2 separate regions of the Homo sapiens genome follow, and region 1 is linked to region 2. A link means that fine-mapping ties the variant in region 2 to the expression of a gene that starts in the linked region. Tissue or cell type: minor salivary gland. Region 2 holds a variant in brackets; the other region holds the start of a gene. All regions are shown on one strand. Distances are between the middles of the regions.

The links. PIP is the estimated chance that this variant, and not a neighbour inherited with it, causes the effect.
Region 1: ATP1B1 starts here. The variant in region 2 is fine-mapped to the expression of ATP1B1 in minor salivary gland (GTEx, PIP above 0.99).

Annotation. Positions count from the first base shown.
Region 1 is chr1:169,105,608-169,108,107 of GRCh38, reverse strand. It overlaps ATP1B1 (ATPase Na+/K+ transporting subunit beta 1), which reads right to left and starts at 1,418. Exons shown (of 6, transcript NM_001677.4): 1 at 1,182-1,418. The coding sequence starts at 1,278. RefSeq lists enhancers at 709-1,281, 1,282-1,854, 1,643-1,937, 2,428-2,500 and a silencer at 1,451-2,370.
Region 2 is chr1:168,862,215-168,864,978 of GRCh38, reverse strand. The region is part of intron 1 of LOC105371606 (a long non-coding RNA gene); the gene reads right to left. Among named protein-coding and RNA genes, the nearest start is that of LINC00626, 77 kb to the right of the region's middle. The variant G/A (reference allele first, on the strand shown) is at 1,116.

The sequences.
Region 1 (2,500 bases), 240 kb before region 2:
CTGCATTTTTTTTTCTTTACAAAAATTCATATATTCCAGCTTCTTCCATTTCAAAATGTCAGCTAAGCACTATTTCCCTGACTCATTCTCCTGCCGATTCCCACAGATCCTCCCAAGCAGGAACACCAATCGGCCTCTGTTCAGGACTCCCTGAATGACTGCAGTGGTGGTGCCAGTGGTGTTGGTGGTGATGGTCATGATGATGATGATGATGATGATGATGTTGGAGGAGGAGGGGGCAGTGATGCAGCAGGGGGAGTTCCCTCCCTCCTTCCCTCACGCAGTCACGACTCATAGATTCGCCTACAACTCTGCCCTTCAAAATGACCTTTTTTTTAAAAAAAAAAAAGTCACCTTTCCGGAGAGGCTGAAAACAAGAAATCTAATTTTCGATGGAAAAAAGTCTATCCAACCAAGCAACAGGCTGCACAAAATATTTTAAGATCAGCTGCTCTGCGTTTATATTCCCTTCACCATAATCAACCCAACCTACTGACTGATCCACAACTGTCTGTGTAGACCTTGAAAACAACCAGACTTTGCCAGGTTTCGGGCCAAAGCTAAGAATCGGAGTCCTGAAATGGAGCTTATTGAACCATTTCTGGGTGGTGATGACTCCAGGGGAGGTCATGGAGGGAAATCCTTAGCCATCGCTGTGAAATACTACAGTGTGGATGGATTCCTCTCCACCCTTCTCTTTCCTCTCTTTTGAGATACGTATTTAGACTAGAAGAAAGATGCTGTAACACACAACCTCGTCTGCATTAGATCCCATCACCTCACGAGGTTCTCTCAAGACCCCAGATCTCATTTTTTTTTTAAGGACTCAGGACACGGGAGAGACAAATGTAGTCTCGCAGAGCCTGACTATTCCCAGGAGTAAAAGGCTCAACCGATGCACGGTAGGAAAGACTGCAAATTACCAAGCCAAGATCGCTACGATATGCATAACCTTCCGCCTGTCGTGTTCCAGCCCCGACCCTGCGCCCCACTCTGGGGACACCGCATTCCGCACAGGACTGCAAGCCCAGGCCGGCGCGACCCAGCAGCGTCCACCACCCTCGCCCCCGCCACCCCGGCCAGCGCGGTGGGTGCGGAACCGGCCGCGGACCCTGCGCAGGGGATGCGCCGCCCGGGAAAGATCAGACGCGGCGGCCGGGAGCTGCGGACCCCGTACTTACACCAACTGCCACCGGTCCTGCCCAGAAACTCCTTCTTCTCTGAGTTCCAGATGAATTTCTTCCAGCTGCCCTCCTCCTTGGCTTTCCCGCGGGCCATGGCGATGGCGGGTCAGCAGCTGCCGCGGTCCGGAGGGTGGGTGGCTGCGGCGCGCGCCCTGGCGTCCTCTGCGCCGCTCGGCTTCTCCGGCCTGGCTCTCTGCAGGCAGGACGCGCCGCTGCCGCTGCGGCTCTCGGAGTGCGAGACGCGCGGCGGAGGAGCCAAGGCAGGAGCAGGAGGAGGGGGAGGCGGCGGCGGCGGCGGCGGCGGGGCGGGGGCGGAGGGAGGGACGGCGCAGGCTGCGCGGCTCCGAGCCCCGCACCTATTGGTGGGCGCGCAGCCGCTCGCGGGCTTTCTTTGGTCCGCCGAGCGCTCCTCTAGCCCTTGGGGGGTCGGGGGCTCCGCGAACCCGTAGCTGCCGCTCCCGCTGCCACTGGGGACGTGTGCTGGGCCCCCGCCTCCCCTGACCTCTGCAGAGACAGGCCCGGGGTAGGAGAGTCAGAGAGGGAAGGACGGACAAGCGGACTGCGGGGCGCCACCGGCACTCCCGCCAGGAGCCGAGGAATTGGCTGCGCCCGCCCTACCTTTACTATATACCGCGCCCCGGCGGCCGTGCGCCCCGCCCTCTAGCGGCCCGGTGGCCAATCGCCGGCGCCAGGGGCAGGGACTCGGCCCGAGAGGGCGGGTTCGGGGCCGGCACAAAGGAGCCGCCGGGGCTAGAGGGGCCGCTTGGATCGCTGGGCGCGGGGCGTTGGGCGCGGGGCGAGGAGGAGGCGGGGGCGGCGGTGAGGGACGCGCAGGCAGCGCCGCGCAGCCCCCTCCCAGCTCCCGGCTGGGCGTGAACCGCCCCTTCCGTGGCTGGGGGATCCGCACCTGGGTCGCCCGGAGCCTCGAGGACCCCAGCCCGGCAGTCCTGGCCCAGCCTCCACGCCTCTGCCTGCCCGCCCGCGCTTTCGGCCTCCCTGGGCTGTGGGTCCACCCCTCCTGGGCGCTGGCGGGGTGGGGGAAGGTCACTCCGGGACGCCGGACTGGCGAGGACTCTGCCCAGCTCCGCCCCGCCTCCCGCTCCTGCACCTGCCGCCCCCTCGCACTCCCCGCCACTGCGGTTGCAGTTCCGGCCCTTCCCTCTTCTTTGCAGGCCAGCCCAGCCGGCAGCCCCGGTTCCTGACTGCCCGGCTGTGCCCCTTGTGGGCGGCCTGAACCACCTCGAGCAGGACAATTGCCAAACCCACCCAGGGCGGTAGCCCGCAGTGAGTTGTCCCGTAGAAACCAATTGAGACTC
Region 2 (2,764 bases):
TCCACAAAGACCAGCCAGCACAGTGGGCAGGGAGTTCTAAATGTCTTGTGGACCTGTGGACCTATTTCCTGCTTATCTTTGCTTTGGCTGGTGCCACTTTTTCAGTTCAATTTGCAGTTTGAAGTCATGCAAATTGTATTTTAAGTGAATTAACCTAAGTAAAAGTTTGATGACTTCTGCCTCTAAACATGCTTTGCCTAAATCACTTATTTTTGCCCTTCAAAAGATAAACTGAATTGCTTATGAAATATGGCGTATGTCACATTCAATCAAAACACTGATCCATTCAATCTAACCCTCTCTTCCTGCTGCCATCTCAAGGTATGGATTGCATAAGAATTTTGTGGCATAAATTTGAAAACAAAACCAAAAACAGTTCTCCATTTTCTTTTATGGATTCTCCATTATGGATTAGCCTTAATGTTTCTTGAATTTCTGTTAGGGAACATCAAGGTCTGTGTCTAGTTCTTGGGATCAAGCTTGTGTTTTCACTAAGGTCTTGTAGCTGCTGACCTATTTCCCAGCCTCCTCCTTAGCTGACCTAAGAGGCCTGCTCTATACAATGGCTGCTCTCAGCTTTGTGGGATCTCTTCTTTTAATCTTTGGTATGCTTGAACACTAAATAATGTATTCAGATGCTGCCTGCCCAGGAAAGATGTCCACACTTTTTTCTCTTAATGCATAACTTCCTGATACCAAAGAAACCTATTTATCGAAGGAGCCAGAAATTCAGAAGCTACACTGAACTATTCTTACTTGGGAACCAAGTGTAAAATCTGACGAGTTGACTCCTACTTTTATTTTAGCTGGGCTGGGGCGTCTGTATAAACAGCCTTTCTTATGACAATTTGGCAGTGCGACTTTTGGTCAGGAAGAGAATCAACAAATGCTTTTATTTCTCAGTCTCCATCCTTATCCCCCCTCCCCTTTACTGACCTTTGTTTGAACCAAGACTAGAGTTTTATTGGGGCTTTGTTTTGTGTCTTGGGCAAGAGTTTTGGATCAGCCGAGGTCAGATCTCATTTTATCTAAATCAGTTTGCCCTCCCCCAATCTCAAGGGAAAAACTTCAACAAAAATACATTTACACGTTAGTCTTAGTTTTCATTGAGTTCC[G/A]TCTTGGCAAAGGAGGCCAGATTCTTATCCCTAGAGGCACTTAGCCTCTTAAACAATGTTTTATTAATTTTTTTCAAACAACCTCTACTCAATCATAAATAAATTGGCTCTCCTGCTTCTGATTCTGACTCCAGAGGCTTGTGGACTTTTGACGTTTTCTGTAATTTTTAATCTAGACATTGTCTCCCACATATAGCAAGAAGCAACATTATAGAATAGAGAATAGAGGATTGGCGGTCAAGAAACCTGGGTTCTAGTTCTGACTGTGCCACTATGCATAACTTTGGGCAAATTTTTAAATCCTAGGCTTCTCATCTCAGTAATAGAGGACTGGATAATATTTACAGTTTCTGTGGACTATAAGATTTTATGATTGGATTGAGAGGAACTGAGTGGAAATCCAGGACCCCAAAAGTAAATCAAAAGGCATTGGACTTACGTCAGAATTCACAATTTTATTAATTTTTTAAAAAGATTTACTATTATTATTATTATTTAGAGATGAGATCTCACTATGTTGCTCAGGTTGGAGTGCAGTGGCTATTCACAGGTGTGATCATAGCTCACTGCACTATTCAACTCTCAGCCTCAAGCGATCCTCCCATCTCAGCCTCCCAAGTCAGGTGCACCACTGAGCCCAGCTAGAGCACACAATTATCTGCATGGTTAATTAAGCCAGAGGTACTCCTTGAGCTCCCAGATTAGGGTAATGTGAGGAGCAATAGAGAATTTTTGGCATGTCAGACCTGGAAGGGCCAATAGAGGCTATCATATCTAACCCATTTCTTTAATAGATGAGGAAACTGAGGCATGAAGAGGAGCAGAGGCTTTCCTAAATTTGGTTAAAAAAGCCTCCATGGATTTTCTCTTCATCGCTTTCACTTCATACTACTTTGCCTCTTTATACTACTATTCAGAGGTATTCTTTATAATAAATGTTGTTAGTATTGTGTTTTGAATAATTCTAGTTTTGAAAAACTCTGTCAAAGGCAAACCCATTAGGCCATTCTCTCTTCCGCATTAGGACTGTAACCATAAGCCAAGGGGCAGTGTGTTGGTTGACACAGTGTACATACATCCCCACATCCCAGTAGTTTAAACACATAAGAGAGGAATTTAAAGTACACCTGTGTGAGGCCATGTGAATTTCCTCTTTCATCCCTTTTTTTGGTTCCATATATACCGATTATCCAGTATATTGAAGCCTGAAAAATACTTTGTTGTCACAGTTTTCCAAAGACTACCTTTATCCAAGGTATCTGGGTAGCTGAAGTCCAAATTTATTTCAGAAAATTGAATAATCAGGATTGCTAGCTGTGGGAAGTTTATATACTACATTAAAGAAGATAGATTTGGTTTTGTACACATCTCCTCTCACCCCCAAACTTTATGTGTTTCCAATATTCCTCAGACAATAAGGACTACACATTTCATTTTAGCAGGAGTCATATTTAAGTTCAGAGTTTGCCAGCAGATATTTTCTACCCTTCATGATCTTACCTTGTTTATTACACATTTGAGAAGATGAAAAGGATCAAATACATGAGTTTTTTCAGACAATTAGTATCTATATTTTAAAAAGCACAATCCTAGTTTTAAATTGATAATATTTGGCAAGATACTTGATTTTATACATAGATATATATATT